Linked DNA regions of Homo sapiens: regions 1 and 3 are each linked to region 2. The links come from fine-mapping of genetic effects on gene expression. A gene starts in region 2. Each other region holds a variant in brackets. All regions are shown on one strand. Distances are from middle to middle.

Region 1 (8,190 bases), 29 kb after region 2:
AGGTTGGCACACAAGCTGGGTTGCAACGGAGGGAAGGAGATCCTTATCAGATGTAATCAGAGCTCAGATCGAGGGCTTTGGTGTGTGTAGAAAGAGGGAGAGACAAAGAACTTAAAACAGAGCTGCCATTTGACCTTGCAATCCCATTACTTGGTGTATACCCAAAGGAGAATAAATCATTCTATTAAAAAGACACATGTGCTTGTATGTTCATGGCAGCACTATTCACAATAGCTAAGACATGGAATCAAACTAGGTGTCCATCTATGGCAGATTGGATAAAGAAAATGGGGTAAATATAAAGCATGCAATACAACATGGCCATAAGAAAAAATGAAATCATGTCCTTTGCTGCAACATGGATGCAGTTGGGACCCATAATCCTAAGTGAATTAACACAGGAACAGAAAACCAAATACAGCATGTTCTCACTTATAAGTGGGAGCTAAACACTGAGCACACATGGACATAAATATGAGAACAATAAACACTGTGGACTACTAGAGGGGGGAAGGAGAGAGGTTTGTAAAACTACCTATCAGGTGCTATGCTCAATACCTGGGTGATGGGATTTACACCCCAAACATCAGCATCATTTAATATTCCCATGTAAAAAGACTGCACATATACCCCTTGTATCTAAAATAAAACTTGAAATTAAAAAAAAAAGAAAGAAAGAAAGAGGCTGGAAATAGAGGCTCACACCTGTAATCCCAGCACTTTGGGTGGCCAAGGTGGGTGGATTGCTTGAGCCCGGGAATTCAAGACCAGCCTGAGAAACCTGGTGAAACTCTGTCTGTACAAAAAATACAAAAATTATCCAGGCATGGTGGAGCGCACCTGTAGTCCCAGCTAATGGGGAGGCTGAGGGGGGAACATCACTTGAGCCCAGGAGGTGGAGGTTGCAGTGAGCTGGGATCACACCACTGCACTACAGCCTGGGTAACAGAGCAACTCTGTCTCAAAGAGAGAGAGGAAAGAAAAAAGAAAAGATGGACAGATAAGAAAATGCACTTGGAGATTAAGAGAAAGCAGCAACATAGGACCCTGGATAATGTGTTTGCTTAATAACTATCCTGATGAGTTATCTGACTATTCCCAAATGAGTACGTGGCAATTCAGGCTGAACCATCAGAGTAGCCCTCCGGAATCTTACTTATGTACAATAGACCTGCATGCACATTTACTAGAATGAGCCTCTCTCTCTGGTAATCATGTCTGCTTCCACTAATTCCATCTGTTTCCTCTCTCTCCCTCCTATCCTGCTAGATCTTAATTCCTTCGACCTTCCTTTGTTTTTCTAACTCCCTTTCTTTCTCTTGTTATTTAACCTGCTATACTATGCAATTGATCTCCTCTGCACTAAGGAACATGCACTTCAGAATTCTGTTGACATCTTGCATTCCTTTATATTTAGTGAAAGAATGCAAAGGAGTCTACCTGGCAATATTCACTCTGCAGGAGGCAATAATTATTATTCAAATTAAAGGAAGCAGTAAAGAGAAATTCAGAAAAAATGAAATATACTAATCTTCAGCTTTTCATTTCAGCCTACAAGGAAAAAATGAAGGAGCTGTCCATGCTGTCACTGATCTGCTCTTGCTTTTACCCGGAACCTCGCAACATCAACATCTATACTTACGATGGTGAGTAACCTAGGATAGACATACCCCTGCTAGCTAGATCATTTGGAAAGGTTGACATATATTTGTTTCTTACAGCTCCTGATATAATTACATCAATATTTTGTAGCTCTCACTATTGACTTGCCGTGTCTAGCTATTATGTCCAATTGATTACCTATTGCTGAAAACAGTTTGAATTTGGTGCTAATAACAACACATCAATGTCTGTTAAGAAATGTGGATGGATTCTTATTAACAGCCACATCCAGCATATCAACATCCACAATATGTCTAAGGTCTTTCTTTGCAAATAATTTAATAGGCTAAGCCATAATTGGAGTAGATCATAATTTGTAAGAAAATGCTTTATACTTAGAAAACTCAAGAGAAAGAATCAACAACCATAATTGTTTTTGCTTTATTGTAGTCTTTATAAAGTTTCTATACTTTGTATATACATGTCAACCAGCTAATGATAATAATAATTGGCTCAATAAATAAAACTGACTTACGACTGAGGCCCTAGATAAAGAGGGTCTGAAAAGAAAAGCCTAAAGAATTAGCATGGCAATTAACATGATTGAGGTGCAACTCTTTAGGTTTGATTTATCCTGATTCATTTTGCTTACTTTGGCTCTGCCACAATCCACATGATCTTGGTCAAATAGATACTTGGATTCTCTAAGTCTCATTTAACTCTAGCATCTTCCTCTTGGAGTTGTTGTGAGGTTTAAACGGTTTAATGTAAGTCAAATATGCAAAACCAAGCCTAGCTCATTATATCACTCTACAATGATAGCTATCATTATCAACATCATCCTTACCTAATTCAGTCAATTTAACTAAAATATTTTATACAGTTCTATGTATCCTAGATATCCCTAAGGCATATTTTACTAACTCTCAGGCTCACAAATATTTTTCTTTTCCATATATGTAAAGAAAGACATTAATGACAAAACAAACTGACCTTGTGGCAGTTAACCCCTTCTGCACCTTTAAAGCCTATTCAAGGACTCAAAGGCATTTACCTTCCAAAGTTATTCTATCGTAGCACAAAAATCATAAATGCTAATTAACTGTTCCATAAGGAAATGTCCTCCATGTGAAAGGAATTCTGTCTCCAAACAAAACATTCATTAGAATGCAGGGCCAATGCCTACTTTGTACAAATTCATTCGGTCAGCAAATAAATTAGACAGACCTTTATTATTTGCTAGATGTAGCTGTGAAGAAGGATCCAGCTATGTTTCTTATGAGACTAATGTCGAACTATGGGTTGTCACTGAGGATCCAGAGTTCCATAGGGCGTAGTCCTCACCTTCAAAGAATTCAGGGCTTAGTAGAAGAGTCTTACACAAATGACTAGAATGTAGAACACAGAGTGGTTAGGACAAAGGAGCCAGGGATGGTTTTTGCTGGGTTAGGGAATGAAAAAAGGGGAAGAAAATATGTGAAGTTATGTGTGAGCTGATTCTTGAAATAAGCTGTTTTTATTTGCCTGCGTTCTCTTATAATCCTTTTCCATAGGCTTCCATAATTTTTATTGAGCTGTATTTAAAGTTGAATAGATAATTCAACATTTCTCGTAAACTGTGCTTCCTAAAAGAGTCCGTAGAGAATTTCAAATTTCTGCAGTCTTTAACTTGACCTGGTATTTCTATGTTAGATAATAACGTGACTTGTTTATTGCAGGCAAACATTATAACAA[T/G]AAATTATTATTATTGTTTACATTTGTAAGCACTAAGTATATGGCTTGTGCTTTGCATTCAGCATCCTTTATCATTTAATCTTCACAACCACCTTAGAAGGAAGGTACTCTTTTTATTTCCATCTTTTAAATGAGGAAATAAAAGCATAAAGAAGTTAATTAACTTACCTAGTGTCACACAGCTATTAAGAGGGGCTTACTATTTGGATGCAAATATAGGCAGTTCTAATTCCAGAGCCTCTAATCTAAGGCATTTAAAACCCCATCACCTTATCAAATAAGCTGTTTTTATTTGCCCGTGTTCTCTTATAATCCTTATCCATAGGTTTCCATAATTTTTATAAAATTGTATTTAAAATTTAAGTATAATCTTGGATGCCATCAGGAAAATGAAAAACATTTTTACATTTGTGAAGGAAAAAGCCCACATCATTTCCAATATAGTTATTGAGTTAGTATTATCTAGACTATCTATTAGCAGCTAAGGATCTGAGGTCAAGGCCTGCCAGCCTGGCATTTTACTTGACCACAACCTCCATGTGCACTAACCAGGCTGCTAAAAGAACATTAACGGGAACATAACCTGCTGGCTTGGTTGCCACAATTTTAAAAAGACGTTAATAAATTAGAGAGCACTTAGAGGTTAGGAAATAATATGGTGGTAAAGATCTAGAAACAGTGTCATTCTGGGGCACTTGAAGATGTTTAGCCTGGGGGAACAACTTGAAATGGAACATAACTGTTTTCAAATACTTGAAAAATGGTGGTGCACCACAGAGAATGGCCTAATCATGGGTAGCTTCAGACTTCAAACAAGGATCAGTGGGCTAAAACCAGAGAGATGGAGTTTGGGACTCAAAGAATGCTCATCTGAAATTGAGGGCTGACCAGCGAGGTTCTTTTAAAAATCATTGCATTTTACTAAATTGTGAGTTCTGTAATTATAAATGTCCTAGCAGGTGCTAGCTGTCATCTTTTCTATTATAAATTATACTATTTTATGTTATAATTTGTATTATACAGGCTTAAAACATAAGGGTCTGATAATCTGCTTATCTTTAATACATAAGCCACTGATAGAAAATAAGTGGCTAACCATTCTTCAGTTCTTTTTTTAATTGACAAAAATTGTATATGTTTGCGGTGTATGGCATATTTTGAAATATGTATACATTAGAGAATGGCTAAGTGAAGCAAATTCACATATGCATTACCTCACACACCTGTCATTTATTTGTGATGAGAACAAAAAATCTACTCTTTCAGTGATTTTCAAGAATACAGTACATTGTTATTAACAATAGTCAGCATGGTGTACAATAAGTCTTCTGCGGCCGGGCGTGGTGGCTCACGCCTATAATCCCAGCACTTTGGGAGGCCAAGGCTGGCAGATCACGAGGTCAGGAGTTCGAGACCAGCCTGACCAACATGCTGAAACCTTGCCTCTACTAAAAATAGAAAAATTAGCTGAGTGTGGTGGTAAGCGCCTGTAGTCCCAGCTACTCAGGAGGCTGAGGCAGGAGAATTGCTTGAACCTGGGAGGCGGAGGTTGCAGTGAGTCGAGATAGTGCCACTGCACTCCAGCCTGGCAAAAGAGGGAAACTCCGTCTCAATAATAAGTCTCTTGCATTTGTTCTTCCTGTTTAACTGAAATTATGTATTCTTTGATCAACATCTCCCCAGTCTCCACCCCTAACCCCTGGTAACCACAATTCTACTCTGCTTCCGTGAGTTCAACTTTATGAATAGTCCACATGTAAGTGAGATCATGTGGTATTTGTCTTTCTGTGCCTAGCTTATTTCACTTAGCATAGTGTCCTCCAGGTTCACCCATGTTGTCAAAAATGACAGGATTTCCCCCAACTTTTTTAAGGCTGAACAGTATTCCATGTGTATGTGTATAAATTAGATTAGTAGATGTTGCCACTCCCTCCTCCACCACAGTGGCTCTATCCCTGGCTCCTGGCTCCAGCCGAGTACACTAGAGGAGGATATTCTAAACAGCAACAACACAGGAGCAAAGACATTACAATGGGGTGTTGTCTTATTGCCCCCATTAGACTGTAAGCATCTTGAAGACAAGGACCCCCATCACAGAGTGATGTTGTCATCCCTGGAGTGGGCACTGTGCATGATTGATGACTGGAAGCAATGAACATACAGAAGGGCAAAACAGAAATCAGCAGGATGCTTTGCATTTCAGCATTGACTTTGCCAAATATGCCCAACTGTTCAGGGAGTTACATTGGTTCTAACGAAGCTCCTGTGATTCCTAAGCACAGGAATGGTGATAATATATATAATGGTGCATGCATATATACGCATATCTAGATAATGATATCTCATTATATGTGAGAACTGAAGAACTCCGTTATGTTTCTCGTCTAACCAAAAAGGGCCTACAGCTACGATAATTTCCAAACAAATAAATCTGTGCTACTTGATTTTCATGCAAAGCTCATATTTGTTCAAAAGGAAAATAAAGCTTAATTTAAAATCAATTTAGGCTATTTTTATCTAAGTATGCTTACCGTTATTCAACTCCCTGCAGATATTGTCAAATTTCTCAATATGGTAAATATTTATTCTGTTAAAATATATCCATAGTTACACTAAAGACAGAGAGGTCTTATATGTTCTAAACAACATAGAGCAAATGCTCATAAACAGCATTTTATTCCTATCTCCCGGAATAACAACGCTACTTCCAATTGCTGGAATCTAAATTATTAAAATAAACCCATGCTGCAAGCTTTGTATGCTTAACATTCTCAAATGTTCACTTTTCAGATATGGAAGTGAAGCAAATCAACAAACGTGCCTCTGGCCAGGCTTTTGAGCTGATCTTGAAGCCACCATCTCCTATCTCAGAAGCCCCACGAACTTTAGCTTCTCCAAAGAAGAAAGACCTGTCCCTGGAGGAGATCCAGAAGAAACTGGAGGCTGCAGAGGAAAGAAGAAAGGTAACTTTTTCCATAGGTTTTCCTTCTCTCTCTCCCTCCCCTGCTCCTCCCTCTCACACACTCGGGCACACATGCACGCACACACACACACACACACACACACACACACACACACACACACATACAGAGAGCAATGACAGCTGAACCTGTGCCATGCCAACATGTATAGGTTTTCAGTAGACACAGAGCCAGGCTAGTTGGGGTAAAAACTGTAAGATAGATGCTAATTTTAGGCTAGCCAAACCAGAGCTCTCAGAAATCCAAAGAGCTTCAGTGCTCTAGTGCCCCTTCCCGTATATTGAATCCCCTTATTATAAAAGCCTCCCTTCCCTAGACCATCAGGCAGAAGCACTGTAGAGAAAACACAGCCCTGGCGAACTCCAGTGGTGGGGAGGGGAAGAAGTGCTGCTTCCTCCCTCTCAGGATCTGTGTCACCCCCTTTGTCAGGCGTGGTTTTCCTTGGAATTACAAATTACCAGATCTTCCCTCCAAGATCTTTCCTGCCCAGGGTAAGGGCCAAGAGCTTGCCCCTTTCCTCTTCAGAGTCCCACTGCCTGCCCTGGAAGTTGGTCCTTCCAAGATCAGGACCTTCTCTGAGTTCTTTGAATATGTTCTTTATCTTTTTCTAAGACTTGATGGGGATTTTTCTCTTTTTGCCATTGGTCCCTGCTTATATTAAAGAGCTTTCCTTTTGCCAAATCTTTACTTTTCCATAATCACATGGCTAAGAAGAGCCAAGGGTATTATTTGAGAACACTTAGAAATCCTAGGGACTGTGTACACAAACAGAAGTTGTTTGAATGTGTCTGTTCCAACCATGTGGTTATGGTAGTTAATCCCATCAAGGTACTCACGATCATCCAAAAATGGAATTCTTTTATGTAATTCATCCCCACATTGTATTTCCCAATATTTTTTATGATATAATTTTAGAATCAGGTAATCACTAAGAACATGTTCCCTGCACAGTTTTATGATGTTTTCTCTAAAAAGTCAGCCAAAACTTTGGACACTTCTATGTTGGATAATTAAAAACAGAATGAAGATAATCCTCCTCCTAAAGATTGAATTCTCCAAGAGAGAATGCAGGACAAACACAGATGTGCTGTGTATAGTATATGTGCATATATACATGCATATATGTACACAAATATGTGTATTATCAAATAATGAGGCTCAAACATTAGAAATCCTTAGATTAAATTTTCTAAACAAGAAAACACTAATCTTTGTAGTTGAAAAAAAATCCTCCTATGATATGTAATATGCTGATCTCAATTTTCACCTAAGAGTGATGTTCTCCAAATGTCCGATGAGCATGTCATATATATATATATGAATTTTTATATATATAATTACAATGGTAATTGGTATATAGAGATATCTATATTATAGATATATATAGCTATCTCTATATATTACATATACCAATTATAGATATAAATATAACAATGGTAACTGGTGTATATGTGATGTGTATATATGTATATGTATACCATAATTATATATTAATATTGTATATATGCCATAATTATATATTAATATTGGTATATATACACCATGATTATATATTAATATTGGTGTGTGTATGTGTGTGTGTATATATATATATATATATAAAATACTAGTTATCATTGTTCTAGATTTAAAAAACAGGAACCTGAGCTACTAACTCGACTATATATATATATATATATACAGGAAGTTGCTTTAAAACATTTTTATCAGCTTTTTTATTGTTATTTTTAGCTTTATTCTCATAGTAAAGCTAAAATAAATTATTCAACATTATCAAAACTTTGCTGCCAGCAGATGTAAGCAATACCTAAAACAGTGGAGAGCATGTTGCACCCAAAGCAGTTTAAGCTCTGACCCAAGCACTGGCATCTTA
Region 2 (8,190 bases):
GTAAACTAAGATGCTGAGTGAAATCTCAAGGGGAACCAACTTCCCAGCTTCAATGGTGTCCAACTAATGTTCTCCCTGGACTCAAGCTGTAAATCAACTCATGGAGAGAAGGAAAAAGTTAGTTACAGTAATTGCTGCCAAGATAGCGAGTAGTTTTCAACATTATCAATTTAATGTAAAGATTCAGCTCATTAAATTTATATCAAGCCTTTCTTATGATTAGAACAAGTTTATTTCCAGAAAAGTTCAATTATAAAACTATCAATAGGATTTACTAATTTCAATAAGTCATTTTGCTTCAGGGTGAATTATACTAATTATTAATACATACAAGTCCCATTTGGACATAAAGAAAACCCTAGGTAGAGAAAAAATAATAATAATTAACTAATCATTGTTTATTTTTAAATAACTAATTTAAGAAGAAAACAATGAAGTGTGTTTGTTCCACACTTCAGAAATAACTCTAACACACTGGCAAATTCCTGAGCAATACAGAGCTCACTGCTAATAAAGAACACCAACTCTCCCTCCTTGGAATGACTTTCCTTTTGAATAAACCATATTAGACAGTTCTATTAAAGGACACATGATCCTTTTTATTTTTCATTAATCTATAAGAATTTAAACATGGCAAAATAATCAAAATGTTAAAAAGTCAACTATTTTTTCATGTGTGATTATTTTAGATGCATCTCTAAATATCTTCAGCTATAACTACTTTATATCCTAAATTTCTAAACATCTAAAAAAATTCAATGGATTTTATCTCTCACATTTCTTTTGTAATCACCTGAGGTCAGATCAAAACAATTAATTTGACCTTAACAATGTTTCTCTTATCTCACTAACTTTTAATAATTACTTTAGGATTCTTTCCCAGGCACTTGATTATGAATAGCAGAAAATCATATGACTGTGTTAGATGGCATCAGCTAATCCTCCAAAGCAACTGCTTCTCTCTGGTTTGGAAAGAAATCAACACCTCAGGCCTCCTCACAGAGATAATACACACTAGGCTATAACCCACAATAATTAAAATTTCTGTTAGCAAGTCTGTGATTTCCACAGCTCCAGCTTACTGCTGGCTGTTAAAGATAACAAAAATTAACAAGGGCCATCTACTATTGTGAGCTCTACTCATTTAGGTTCTTTGGGAATAGGGCAGGATATAAATAAATAAACACTGGTAAACAGCCTAATACCTGCTCCCAACACAAGCTAAGCAAAGGAGGTTAGAAGTGTCAATATGGTCTCACTGGATTCATCCATTTTGAATCATTTTCAACACTGTATTATTTATTATTTCACAAATTGTTTTTAACTGTCTACCACGTGAATCATGAAACCAACCACTAGGAAGGGTATAAAGATATACACTATTCATTCTCTACCTTTCAAAGGTTTAAATGTATTGGAAACACTAAATATAGTCATAGTACTTAAAATTACTATATATCCATGATGGCTTAGACAGTTCATACATGATAACCCTTCAGTCTACCCAAATCCCCACACGACAGATACTGGTTGTCCTTAGTTTATACTGTGCAAATGTAGTACCTATTCTTTGAGTGTCCACCCATTCCCATCAAAACCATTTCCTTCAGGAAAAGCTGATCTCACCTCCAGACCTCTAGGGCCAACTCTATCTATATGGTTAGACGAAACAGCAAATGCACTTTTATTATTAGTGCCAGTTTGGGTTATTTTTTCAAATTTTTGCAACAAAGTGTGATCCACAATACACAAGATCATATTCACTCCCCCAAATTAATATTTTCTTAAAGAGATGGGTGTTATATTTTCCTTCACTTTCTATTTTTCAGACATTAAGGAGAAGCTTGGCTGGCATCACAAAAGCCTGAAACATCATCAAATAAATATTTGTTGAATAAATTAGCTGAACAAATGAATAAGTGAATAACATATTGAATATGAAATAATTTTTCTGTTCATATTTCACCCTTACTTTCCCATGTGAATATGCATGATACCATATTGTAATGATAAAAGAAAACAAAAAACAATTTGATAATGGCACAGCCCTTTGAATTTATTTGTGTTTTCTTAGCTGATTGACAATTTTGCCTACTATCTTTTTATTCTATGGTAAATCATATTGACCTACTCTCTTCCCTGTTTGACATTATTTAAAAATCATTCATAACTGAAGTTAGGTGGCTAACACCTAGAAAATCGGAAATAGAAAAGAGTCACATATGTGACCCTTAGGGCAGTAGAATGAGTGTTTTGTTTTCCTCATAGTCATCAAAAGTGCAATCGATTTCATTCAGCAGCCAACTGCAGTTGTTAAAGAAACTAATGCCATGACTTAGGGCCCTTGTTCTCCAAGGAAGCTGAAGAATGTGTAGAGATGACACACAGCCTGAGGGGAAAGGGTGTGGTGGGGAGAAGAGAAATACTTTGAAAATATTAGTCACACAGACATGCTGAAGATCCTTCACCTCATGAGTGATAACTACTCCAGTGAGAGGTGATTAACTGTTACATTTAAAGTGGGAAATGCCTATATATAGAGAGAAAATGGTTATTTATTTCCAGACCCTGCCAACTTCCATATTGCTCTCTTGCTGTGTCATAGTCACAGACCTGTTCAAAGATAGGAAATATAATTTCTAATCTTCCTGTTCAAGAAATAATTTTATTGATCTCCACTTCATCTTTTATTTTCCCCATGATTCAGCAGGTCAAAACTGTTCCAGTTCCAGTAGCATCCTATCAGTCAGCAAAATGTCCATGAGGTTAAAATGTCTTACAAGTTAATAGGAGGTGAAGAAATTCATTTCAGCACCAAGGAGAGTGCCCTGCTATTTTCAATTGGTTTTATGTATTTGAAACTGTGTATTGTTCCTGAGGATAGAAAAAAAAGTTGAAATGTGATTGGACAGAAAGCTGCTAAAAACCTATTTTAATAAGAAGAAAAAAATACATTCATTTTTCTGAAATTAAAAACTTGCCAGGGTTTCATACCTGTTCATGATTGCAACAATGTGCTCTTCTTTTGGCTTTCAAACGTCGGAATTAGCAATTCTTTGCCTATTTTTCTAATATTAAAACCAGTTTCTGCATGGAATTAGACTGGCTCAATAAAGTTACAGAAGAGTTAAATTAGCAGTAATTAAAAACTTCATGCAGCAACTCCTAAACTTTTTCTCACCATTTTCAGAGCTGTGCACATGGTAAATGCTCAATACATATTTAAGTCAAGTGAAAGAGAACAAATGAATGACTGGCATCCATTAAGTGAGAAGGAGGAACTAATAAATGCCTTGTTTGTAATGAAAGTCATTTTTTGCAACTAGTCTCAAAGATCCTCACATACGACATTGCTCAATCCGAAACTTGAACACAGCCTTCCTGGGCCTACATAAACGTAGTCTCTCTGGATCTCAGAAAAATAATGACCCAGACCACACCTTTCATCTCTTCTAAGTTTTCCATGTAAAGCATTCTCCTTAGAGCCCTGGAAAGGTTACTAAAATTTTGACCCACTTAATCCTACACCTTCAGGGCAACATGGCATTCACCTGTGGTTTCCTTAATGCCCAAACCAGCCAGCCAACCTGTTTTCTGCCGTGTTAACAAATGGACAGGACACAGGCACCAGAGGTTAAACTTTCTTCCTCTTCCCCCATGTCCCCAGGTGGACCATTATTACCATCCCTATTCCCAAGCAACCAGGTAGCCCCTTCCTCTGTGCCAAGGGAAGAAAACACCATGCTTCCCTCTCCTGAGAGACCTTCAAGAGTTTAGAGACGCCTAAGTCCAGCTGTGCTAAAAGATAAAGGACAATAATGCAAGTCTGCTCTGAGCTGCCACCATAGCCAGACATAGGGTAGCCCTGAAAGACTAGAACCAAGGACAGAGCCAAAGGTGAAAGAAAATATGAAAAAGTGAAAACACAGTATTTAAACAGAATTTTCCAACAGCCTGCATATAGTGAGGACTTCTCAAGCTTCTGAATCCTTTTCCATTGAATTGTGCAATGGCACATGTATGAGCAAAGTCAAGCCTCCTGGCTCCCAGGTAGGCACAGCCCAGTTCTTAGCTCCTAGGAAGCTTCAGGGCTTAAAGCTCCACTCTACTTGGACTGTACTATCAGGCCCCCAAAATGGGGGGAGCCGACAGGGAAGGACTGATTTCCATTTCAAACTGCATTCTGGTACTTTGTACTCCAGCACCATTGGCCGATCAATATTTAATGCTTGGAGATTCTGACTCTGCGGGAGTCATGTCAGGGGACCTTGGGAGCCAATCTGCTTGAGCTTCTGAGTGATAATTATTCATGGGCTCCTGCCTCTTGCTCTTTCTCTAGCACGGTCCCACTCTGCAGACTCAGTGCCTTATTCAGTCTTCTCTCTCGCTCTCTCCGCTGCTGTAGCCGGACCCTTTGCCTTCGCCACTGCTCAGCGTCTGCACATCCCTACAATGGCTAAAACAGCAATGGGTAAGGCACTGCGCCTCGTTCTCCGTCGGCTCTACCTGGAGCCCACCTCTCACCTCCTCTCTTGAGCTCTAGAAGCATTCAGAGATATTTTATAAAGAAAAAGATGTTAATGGTAACACAGGACCAGGAAGGACAGGGCAGTTCTGGGGGAGGTGGGAGGGCAGAGAAGAGGTCTATGGAAATCTAAAGCGAAGAATTTCTTTTAAAAGGTAGAAGCGGGTAAGTTGCCCTCCTATGGGTAGAGAATTTATTCTGTTTCCATATTTAAAATTAGGACTCAATCGTGAGGGGAGGAAGCTACCTTAACTGTTTGCCTTAAATGGGCTTAAGGGACATTTTGGAAAGTGCTTTATAACGACCTTTTTTTTTTTTATTTCTTCTCTAGTTTAAGAAGAAAATAGGAAAGGGGTAAAGGGAAGGTGGGAGAAAGGAAAAAGAAAATTGCAAAGTCAAAGCGGTCCCATCCCGCTGTTTGAAAGATGGGTGGAGACGGGGGGAGGGGATGGAGAGAACTGGGCACATTTTACGGTATTGTCTCGTCGAAGAAACCGCTAGTCCTGGGGTGCGGTGCAGGGAGGTAAGACGGCGGGGGACAGGGTGGGGGTAGGACCTCCGCTCCTTTGTTTTAGGGCAAGGGAGGGGAAGGAGAGAGGAAGTCGCGGAGGGCGTGGAGGGCGCGGGTGGGCAGCTGCAGGGGCGGGGAAGCGCGCGGCAGGGAGGGGTGGAGGGACAGCGGCTTCGAAGGCGCTGGGGTGGGGTTTCTTTGTGTGCGGACCAGCGGTCCCGGGGGGAGGCACCTGCAGCGCTGGGCGCACAATGCGGACAGCCCCACCCAGTGCGGAACCGCGCAGCCCCGCCCCCCCGCCCGGTGCTGCATCTTCATTCGAAAGGGGGTCGGGTGGGGAGCGCAGCGTGACACCCAGGAGCCCAACCCTGCGGGGACAGCGGCGCCACGCCCCGCGCTCCCCGCTCCCGACTCCCCGCCGCGGCTTCCAAGAGAGACCTGACCACTGACCCCGCCCTCCCCACGCTGGCCTCATTGTTCTGCTTTTAAGAGAGATGGGAAAAGTGGGTTAACATTTTTCTTTTCGGAAGCAAATTACATAGAGTGTTTAGACATAGACACAGATAAAGGGTTCTTTGAAGACCTTTGATCGTTTGCGGGAAAAGCTTCTAGAACCTAGACATGTGTATGTATAATAATAGAGATGACATGAAATCGTATATAAAGCAAAAGAGGTCAAAGTCTTAAGTTAAGCCACGCGAAATTTCCGTTTTGTGGGTCAGACAGTGCCAAATATCGGCAATTTCATAAGCTCAGAGAGACAAGACAGTGGAGACACAGGATGACCGGAAAAGATTCTGGATTCAGGGCCTTCATCCGCAATTGGTCTTGTGCCTTGAGTGCCCACGGTTCTGGCGCTCAGTGGCCCCGGGGTGAAAAGGCAGGGTGGGGCCTGGGGTCCTGTGGCAGCTGGAAGCACGTGTCCCCCGGGACTTGGTTGCAGGATGCGGAGACAGGGAAAGCTGCCGAAAGGACTCCATCTGCGCGGCTCCGCCCTGCCCTACCCTCCCCGCGGAGCCGGGGAGACCTCAGGCTCCGAGACTGGCGGGGAAGAGGAATATGGGAGGGGCAGTTGAGCTGTATGCAGTCCTGGAACCTCTTTTTTCAGCCCCGCAGTCCACAACGGCCCGAGCACCCCTTGATGTGCGCAGACCCCCGGCGTGGCTCTCAGCCCCAGCACCGAGCCCCTCCCAGCCAAGCGGGTGGCTCTGCAGAAAAGCTGGCTCGAGCCCCGCCCGGCCACACAAAGGCGCGGCCCCACCCAGCCCGGGCGCGAGACCGCAGAGGTGACCCCCTTCCCAGGGATTCAGGGAGGGCTGTCTCTTCTCGCCCACCCACGGTCCGCGGAGCTCGGGGCTTTTTTTCCCCCAGCCCAAGCCCCCCGCCCACCCTCTGTTCTCTATGATTTTCCAGAATGGAGACCCCGCGAGGGGCTTCTCTAAGGGAGACCCTCGCTCCTCCAGCGGGGCGCGGCTCGGCCCCACCCCTCCCAGCTGAGGCCCAGAGCCGCCTACCGCTGGCCGGGTGGGGGCGCACGTGGCGACTGGGTGTGTGGAGCGCAGCCAGCCCTGCAGAGCCCCGCGCCGCGCCCTGCGCTCCCCTCCCCGGAGTTGGGCGCTCGCCCCCGCGGTGCAGCCGGGGAGACCGGTTTCTGCGCAGTGTCCTGAGCTACCCCCGCTTTCCACAATTCGCAGTTCACTCGCACGTCCAGAAAGGTTCTGAGAATGGGTGGTGGGGGCGATCTCGCCTCGCTTTCTGCACCCCTCAGAAAGGTTTCCGCTGCAGGCTAGTGGCTGCAAACTCATCGTCATCATCAGTATTATTATCATTTCAAATCGTTGTTATTATTTAATGATTCAGTAGCCTTGTTTGTTCTCATTTGTTCAAAAGGGACGTGGATTGCTCTTGGTTAAGGATTAACCCTTGTTGCGTTCGCTTTGCTTCCTCCTAATTGCCCTCATCCCTTTCCCCCACAAAAAGGTAAATTTGTCTCCAGTTGTTCATTTTAAGTTATAAAGCAAATATATTTTTGCTTCCTGCCAGGATTATGTATGTTCATGTGGCTAAGATACATGTGCAAGTGCTTGCTAAGAGCAGGGTTTGTGTGCCAACGATTGCTGGAAAATTCTCTGCAAAGAATTGTTTGTGGCTGCAATGGGTGAGAATACACATATATAATTGAGATGATCTTCAACATAAGGTTATATCTATAAATATATAAATATAGTTTATGCACAAAATTTTAAGTTTTTTCCCCTGAAACTGTTCTTCCAACTGCTGATTCTTGATACAGCCTCAATCCTACACAGATACATGGATCGTGAAATGGTAGCCGCCATCCAAATAAAAATCCCACCCCAAATATGACAAACGCAAGCATCCTTTCTGGCCATAATTTAACTGCATTTGCAAATCATGAAAAAAACACTACTTCTGCAGTATTAAAATAATAGATTTTGAAATTAATTCCAATTTCAAAGATAATTAATTATCAGGGCGAGTGCTTTTTTCCTGATTCATTAAACAATTATGTATTCAGCATGATTGTAAGAGGTGCATATAATATTCCCCATTATCTTTTCTAATGAAGTGGGCACCTTCTGAATGGATATATAAGTAACTAGAAATGAAAAGCTGAGGATTTGGTCAGAATTTCAGGATAAAACTGAAAGAAATGGCAGTAGTTTATCAATTAATCTCATGTATTTAGTTTATACCAGGTGAGTAAGCTGAGCCTGCAATAAACACTCTCTGTCCCAGTGTAACACGTCGCAGGTAGCTAGAATGATAGGATAAATTAATAGACCTTGTGGTGTTTGTCTATGCACGTTAAAATTCTCTGAGAGAAAGTATATTTTAAAATGATAATTAAGATTGGACATTTGTGCTATTAAAATCTACAACTTTAGTCAAAATTCACAATGGTTTTTTTTTACAATAATGTGACTTACAGATTTGTAGTAAATTATTCTATTCTAAAAGAGAAATGAGTGTTTTTATTGTTACAGCTATTACCTCATTAATATTTTTAGCAAACTTTTATTTGTTGCATTGAAAGCAGTTTTAATTACTTTGGGTTTTTATTTTTCAAATTACTAATGGATAGATGGTGGAATAAGCATTTAATCATTTGGCACAATATGACTTCCATCAA
Region 3 (8,190 bases), 250 kb before region 2:
CACCAAGGAGTTGAAATTACCATTAATATTCCAATGGGGGAGGGGATGAACTGAGTGATGAGTTCAGTGAGTAAAACTAGGCAACCTTCGTGCTTAAATATTATGTATGTGAAACATCCTAACTGTAGTCATTTGCACATGGAAATGACTGGAAACAAATAGAAAGCTTTTGTGGAACTTGCTTTGCCAAGAAAACCCCAGGCCTGGCTGCAACAGCTTGTGATTTTTGAACCCCTAAATTCATCTCTAAGTCCACAAGTTGCATCCATAAAGAGACCTTAGAAAGCAGAGGAACCCCAAGAAAAGACATCTTCTCCTCAGCCTACCTCAGAAGAGGCAGTAGAAGAAATGGACAAGCAGAATCCTCCCCTTCTGCCCTGCAACATGCACACAGAGAAGAATTAGAAGCTAGGAAAAATAAAGGATTAAGGAGGAAACCTAGAGAGAAGAACCAGGAGTTGCCAGATTTGCTCTCTGATGTGTTCTGTGTTGGGCACCTGCCCCGATTCCCTTCACCAGGCCCAGCTGCTGTGCTGTTGGCTGCCAATGTCTCCCAACTGTACCCCTTTCCAGAGACTTGCTCTCTGCCAGTTAAAGCCACCTGACTCAGATGTCTGCGCAGTTACACAAAACCCAGTTGCTGAGTGCTGACCAGCAGCTAACAGCTCACTGATATTAGTATAAAAGCCCAGCCCTCTTGCTTCAGGGCAGGACAACTCCCTGGTACCATTCATACTCCCAAACTCCATATGGGATGAACTCTAGTCCACAGTTAGCTTATAGGTCACCAGATCATGAGGCACATCACCTGGAACACTGCCTTGCAATGAAGGTAAATCTATTCTATGTATGAAAAGAAGATGTGTATTGGTATCAGGTAACTGAACTGGTGTAGCATAAATGATTTTGCTGTTGCCTAATCAATGTCTACTCTTCCTTTTTTTTTTTTTTTTTTTTTTTTTTACAAACAGAAGCCTGATCTTGTTTGAAGTGGCAATTACACCATCTCTAGTTACATTCCCTACTCCACAGCAGTGAGGGAGCACTATATGACCTAGTTCTGGACAGTCATATAGAAGCAGAAGTCACAGGACAAAGCTTCAGGGAAAACTTTAAACCGGAGGAGACACAAGTGGCATGAGCTTTTACCCCAGCTCCTTCCTGCTGCCGGAGGAAGAATAGTCATCTTACACCAAGGGGACTACTATGAAATGAAAGCCACATCCTAAGAATGTCATGAAAACTTTGTAGGGTCACGGTATTGACCCTCACCTATTTAAGTCACTGTGTGTCAAATTTCTTGTACATCAAATGCAATCTTAATGCATAAGACACTCGAAAAATGATCAAGAATATAGTAAGGCAATTTACAAAAGAAATGCAAATTTTCAATAATTAATACATTTTTCAAAGGTTTTGTTTTGGGGTAAGAGATGGACAAATATTAAAAATGTGGAAAAGTATAGAATATCAGAAAAGCTATAACCAAGCTGCTATTCATTCACACTGTTAGGAAGACACACTGATAGAACACTTCTGAAGGAAGGTTTAGTAATGTATCTATTCGTGAAACCATGCTTTCCAGATTTCTGGTGCAAGAAGGCAATCTAAATAAGTGCATTTATATTTTCTCCCACACAAAAGCTTTCTAAAATTACTGTGAAAGTCATTATTTACAAAATAATTGACTAGGCGAAAAAATCTAAAAGAATGTACAGATAAGCTGCATAAATGTCTTCTTTTGAGAAGTGTCTGTTTATATCCTTCACCCACTTTTTGATGGGGTTGTTTGTTTTTTTCTTGTAAATTTGTTTGAGTTCATTGTAGATTCTGGATATTAGCCCTTTGTCACATGAGTAGATTACAAAAATTTTCTCCCATTCTGTAGGTTGCCTGTTCACTCTGATGGTAGTTTCTTTTGCTGTGCAGAAGCTCTTTAGTTTAATTAGATTCCTTTTGTCAATTTTGGCTTTTGTTGTGACATTTATGCAGCCAAAAGACACATGAAAAAATGCTCATCATCACTGGCCATCAGAGAAATGCAAATCAAAACCACAATGAGATACCATCTCACACCAGTTAGAATGGCGATCATTAGAAAGTCAGGAAACAACAGGTGCTGGAGAGGATGTGGAAAAATAGGAACACTTTTACACTGTTGGTGGGACTGTAAACTAGTTCAACCATTGTGGAAGTCAGTGTGGCGATTCCTCAGGGATCTAGAATTAGAAATACCATTTGACCCAGCCATCCCATTACTGGGTATATAACCAAAGGATTATAAATCATGCTGCTATAAAGACACATGCACACGTATGTTTATTGCGGCACTCTTCACAATAGCAAAGACTTGGAACCAACCCGAATGTCCAACAATGGTAGACTGGATTAAGAAAATGTGGCACATATACACCATGGAATACTACGCAGCCATAAAACATGGTGAGTTTGTGTTCTTTGTAAGGACATGGATGAAGCTGGAAACCGTCATTCTCAGCAAACTATCGCAAAGACAAAAAATCAAACACCGCATGTTCTCACTCATAGGTGGGAATTGAACAATGAGAACACATGGACGCAGGAAGGGGAACATCACACACCAGGAGGGAGGAGGGATGGCATTAGGAGATATACCTAATGTTAAATGACGAGTTACTGGGTGCAGCACACTAACATGGCACATGTGTACATATGTAACTAACCTGCACGTTGTGCACATGTACCTTAAAACTTAAATTATAATAATAAAAAAAGAAAAACAAAGTGAAATGATGTGTTGTACAATGACAGGCCCTGGAAAAACTGTCACACTGGACTCCAATTGGGTGTTTGTGATGCCCTGCTCCTGGGCAAAACTGCCCATGTGTCAGTGGCAGCAGAGTGGACAGCTGAGTGATGGGACCTCCACACAGTGGGCTTCTAGTCAGCAGTGAAAATGAGTAATTCATCACATCATTATCAAAGAGACAGTGTTGAGAAAGAAGCAAACCATGGAAAATACACACGGTCTCCCTCAATCCGTATGAAGTTCAAAAGCAGGACAAGCTGAAAAACAGTTTGTTGAAGGGCTCACACAGGAGGTCATACTTTAAGGAAAAGGAAAGAGATGATGAATTCTGTGGTTCCTGAGGTATTGGCAGTATTCCTAGCCTGCGAGGCTAATAGATGTGAAACTCACATCATGTGGAATTCACCATTTTAAAGTGTACAATTCAGTGGCATTTAGTACATTCACAATGTTGTGCAATCATCACTCCTAGTATTACTTTGTAAACTTTACAAATTCATTGTATTTATTTATTTAACGGTTGTTACAGTTTGCAACTAAAATAGAAGGAAATACATCAAAATATTAGCAGTGGCTCTTCTGGGTGAAGTACAAGGGGCAAATTGTTTTCTCCTGTTTGTTTTTCTGTACTTTGTTTACTATACATGTTGTTTACTGTGTCACATTGTTTACTGTGAATAGTTACTATTTGAAACTAAAGATCAAGGGCAATAAACTGTATTTTAAGAGGAAGTCAGAAAACAAAACAAAACAAAAAAAGAATGTACAGATAAGCTATTAGAATCAATAAGGTACTACTGATAAAAGCCAAAAACTGAAAGAAATGTACATTAACAGTAAAATAGGCAATTAAATTATGGCATTTTCATACAATGTAATTATATAACAAGGATAATAAATCAACAAATGTTATTGACTCACACAGACATAATGTGCAGCAAAAGGAGCTGGACGTAGAGTACATACTGATTCCATTAAAATTAATCCAAAAGCAAGCAAGACTAATCTACGATGTTTGAAGCAAGGAGCGTGAGGAGGGGTTCTGCAGGAGACTCTAGGATTGCAGTCTTCTGCAGCGCTGGTTATGTTTTTCATCTTGATCTAGGTATTGGTTACATGAATGTGTTCATATCATGAAAATTTAGTAACTTAAAAGATCTTTGGGCATTTCTGTAACTATGCTATGCTTTCCTAAAACACTTACTTTAAAACATATGATAGCAAAGGGATATTCAGTAAGTGTAACATAAAACCACTACAATGGATGGGGTCATCAGAAGCTTATAGAATTCAACCAATTTCTGAAGAAAGAAGTCAAGCTGCATGAAGAAGCCACACACTGGCACTCCAGTTGACAGCTCCAGCTGATCTGCAGGCCAACAGCCAGCACCAATTGCCACCTTATGGAGGAGTCATCTTTTTACCATCCAGCTCAGCTTAGCCTTCAGATGACTGCAGTTCCAGTGAAATCTGACAGCAACTGCATTAGAACTCTCAAGTGAGAACTGCCTAACCAGTCTTTCCAAAATTCATGATTTACAAAATCATGAGCAAAACTGAAAGGTTGCTTTAAGGGACTAAGTTTTGGGGTAATTTGTTACATAATTATAGTAACCGAAAAAGAAGAGCATCCAAGGTCCTATTATCAGGAGTCTCATTAAAAGAGAAGAAAGAACACAGAAGATGAAGATATTTTTAAAATAAGAACAATAATATGAGAAAATTTCCCAGTGCTCAAGGAAAACAATAGTTGTTAAATAGAAGGGCTCACTGAGTGCTAAACAGGGTAAATGAAAACAGATGCTGTCTTAGAAATACAGTTGTGAAACTTCAGAACATCAGTATTTCCACCCATGTCTCAATCAGCTATGTCAGGGATCAGAGGGCAGGGGATAGTCAGGCAGTTACCACCACCACCCTCTACCGAGCAAGAACTGGTTATTTTAAAAAATATATTCTATGGTGTAGATACATACACTCACATAACAGATTACTATACATACATACACTCACATAACAGATTACTATACATTTTTTAAATATTATGATTTAGTTCCATATTTCTTGACATAGAAATGTGTCAGAAAATATTATTGAGAAATAAAAGCAGATTACAGAAAAACCT[G/A]CGAACTAGTTGTTGGAGAGTTTGCGAAAGAAAAATCAACATTGGCTAGATAAGGTGATAAAATATGGAGCCAGCAGGCTTAGCGATGAAACACTTAGGTATGCAACAACTTTCTAGACTAGAAACGATGATAAAGCACAGTGAAGGAGAACTGACCCAGGAGGCAAGAAACCTTGGATTTAATGTGATTTTTCCATTAGTTATTTGTGTTTGAGCAAGACAGAATAACTTCTCACACATGTAAATCCCTCATTAGTAAAACAACAGGGCTGCCTAAATAAGCCCTCATGAATTAAATTCTATGATTCCATGATTGAAAAAGTCACAAGGCTTTTCCCAACATTGTCAGTATCAAGGAGCTTCATGGGGGATAGGAACACTTTAATCCATAGAGCCCATAGCACCTTCCAGCTAACACGTCCTTGAAACATTGTTACTGCTATCTCTACCTAGCTGAGATAGAGTGAAAAACTAAAGTAATTATTTGGGTAAACGAAGTCACTCCCCCATAACTCCTTGCTAGAGATATACGTTAATTGGCTTGTCATTCTATTCAGTCATACATTGACAATTCTAAAATTATTTTTTGTAACATGCAAATGCAAATTGTCTTTGTAACTTGTCACTACCTTGAGTCAGAGATTAAATTGTTAATAATGCAAAAAGTCTTCTGTTATTTATTCTATCCTTCTCTTAATAATGTTTTAATACATACTGTAATTTAAGTGAAATTAAGAAAAATAGACCAGAAATTAAATGCTAAAACAAGTGATTACAGATTAGTGTTATAATTCAAAATACAGCACATGGTTTAAAGTTTTAAATTGTATCAGAACTAGTATTGACCTCCAACCCTTATCTTCTTAATCAATTACTGCAGAAGCTCTTCTAACCAACTACCATTTAATTAATTCTTATTCTTAACTAACATTTTCCATTTCTTATGTAAAATTTAAATACAGATGCTCATTGCACACTGAACACTCTCCAATCTTAAACTACCCTCCTGAATACCTGAACACTTCCTCTTGCAGTTGAGTTGTGTGCCTATTAAGAGTTTAATTATTCAGTTTTCAACTATTTTATGTCTGTTATATTTGTATTATGATCACATTATTCAAGGAAATGTTACATAAACACATGAAATATGAGTAGAAAAATAAAGATGATAGTCTAGAAAAATCCTACTCTCAGATTATGCTTAATTTTCAATAAAATCATAACTGGATGCTATGGAGTGAATATTTGTGTCCTCCCAAAATTCATATGTTAAAATCCTAACCCCTAAGGTGATGGGCATAAGGAGGTGAGGCCTTTGGGAAGTGATTGGGTCATAAGGATGGAGCCCTCATGAATGGAATTAACTCCTTTTTAAAAGAGGCATGAGAGAGCTCCCCAGTCCCTGCCACCATGTGAGAACGCTGCAAGAAGACGCTATGATCCAGGAAGCAAACTTCACCAGATGCTGAATCTACCAGCAGCTTGATCTGGGACTTCTTAGCCTCCAGAACTGTAAGAAATAAATTTCTATTGTTTATTAGACACATTGTTTATAAGACACCTAGTGTATGGTATTTTATTATGGGGGTCCAAAAGGACTAAGACACTTGATATTAGATAATAAATTATGGGTTGATTTACTCAACAAAGATAGCACAGAACTGTAACCACAAAATCCATATTCATAGAAAATGCCTACAAAAATGCAGAAAAATAAATTTACTCTTCTGGTTTTAATTTAGAGCCAAAGGTTTTATTTTTGTGTGCTCATCTGTCAGGATGTCTAAGTTATGCTGCAGTAACAAACAATCCCCAAATTTCAGTCATCTAAAACAGCAGCAGTTTAACAGACATACTATACCTCTATTGCATAGTGCTTGGAAGGAGACTTTAAATATTTGTGACTATCTCTGATGAACACCTGCATTGAATTTAGCCAACTGCAAAGTTGAAGGGAATACAGCCTATACAAGACCGTTCTCACCTCTGACATCAATTGCAAATCTGGTGTGTGTGTGTATATAGGGGAATGGTTTTCAAAACCACCCTCAGGATTAATAACCCACTAGAAGGACTAAAAGAACTTACTGAAAGCTGTTATACTCATGGTCATGATATACAACAGAGAAAGAGTAACAGTCAAAATCAGCCAAGGGAGGAAAATACCAGAAAGAGTCTAGAAAAGGTACTGAAACATTTTCTAGGTTCCTTATCCCCTTCGCAGGAAGTGTGACAGGAGTGTGGCCCAAATGTTCAGTCGCCCCGCTGCTCAAACCCCTTGAGGGAGCGTGAGCATGCAGACCGGCAGGTGCAGGAGCCAGGAGAGCACTTTGAGCTCCAGCTCCACGGTAGTGTCTGGGGATGTGTGTCTGCAACCCCAGTGTTACAGAGCTCTTTCAGCTTTGCCATCCGCAGATGGCCTGAGTGTTAATCAGCTCACCCTCTGCCTTTTCGCAAGGGCAGAGGCCACTGTGACGCCTTCCTGTATCCCGAGCTCTTGTCCATCATCCGCGGAAAATCGAGGCACACACGGACTTGAAGGATGAATGTAAGGTTTTACTGAGTGGTGGAGGTGGTTTTCAGCAGGATGGATGGGGAGTCAGAAGTGGGGGATGGAGTGGGAAAGCGATCCTCCCCTGGAATCCAGCTGCCGAGAGGCTGGACGCCACTCTGTACGCCCCAGCCGAACTCCTCCGGGCGTTCAGATGTTCCTCTCCTCTCCCTTTCTCTGCCACGTCGTTCAGCCATCTGTCTCCTTTCTGCTGGCTTGCTGGTCTGCTCTGGAGCTTGGAGTTCGGGGTTTAAGGGGGCCTTGAAGGCCAAAAGGCAACTTTTTGGGTGCAAAAACAGGAATGCCTGCTCTCATTTAGGGCCACAGGTATGCAGGCTTGAGGTTGGGGCCTTTGTCTGGGAACCACCCTCTTCCACCCAGTACTTCCCTGTCTCCTGTCTGTATCAGTACCAAACAAACAGATCCTGTTGTCCTCTCTTTGCAGAATCACAGATATGTGACCTTCCCAGCATTGATGTGAAACAATTCAGAGTACTGGCAACCAGGGAAGCTCACCCAAGCTTTCAGTGTCCAGAGGTTTTATGGGGGTTTGATCACATACTATTCACGTGGCTGCCCTTTAGTCTCCAGTACCTCCCAGAATTTCAGGCTAATTCCTTTATTCTTCAGTCCCTTCCCCAAGCAAAGACATTCCTATCAGGCATGATATTTCCAGGGACTAGAGATCGTCTCTCAGTAGCTGAAGGTAAAGGCCAGACCTCTCCT

Alleles and levels. Alleles are on the strand shown, and positions count from the first base shown. SD is a standard deviation of normalised expression in the study named.
For the expression in testis of the gene that starts at base 4,374 in region 2, allele G in region 1 goes with a higher level than allele T (small effect, 0.33 SD a copy in GTEx).
With allele A in place of G in region 3, the expression in fibroblasts of the gene that starts at base 4,374 in region 2 is higher (small effect, 0.30 SD a copy in GTEx).

The links. PIP is the estimated chance that this variant, and not a neighbour inherited with it, causes the effect.
Region 1: its variant is fine-mapped to the expression of STMN2 in testis (GTEx, PIP 0.99).
Region 3: its variant is fine-mapped to the expression of STMN2 in fibroblasts (GTEx, PIP above 0.99).

Annotation. Positions count from the first base shown.
Region 1 is chr8:79,635,252-79,643,441 of GRCh38, forward strand. It overlaps STMN2 (stathmin 2), which reads left to right. Exons shown (of 5, transcript NM_007029.4): 2 at 1,551-1,646; 3 at 6,127-6,299. LOC105375916 (a long non-coding RNA gene) reads right to left here and starts at 2,915. Exons shown (of 3, transcript XR_007060974.1): 1 at 2,830-2,915. The variant T/G (reference allele first, on the strand shown) is at 3,337.
Region 2 is chr8:79,606,744-79,614,933 of GRCh38, forward strand. It overlaps STMN2 (stathmin 2), which reads left to right and starts at 4,374. Exons shown (of 5, transcript NM_007029.4): 1 at 4,374-4,471. The coding sequence starts at 4,453. RefSeq lists a silencer at 6,624-6,683.
Region 3 is chr8:79,352,742-79,360,931 of GRCh38, forward strand. No RefSeq gene overlaps it. Among named protein-coding and RNA genes, the nearest start is that of MIR12123, 25 kb to the left of the region's middle. The variant G/A (reference allele first, on the strand shown) is at 4,914.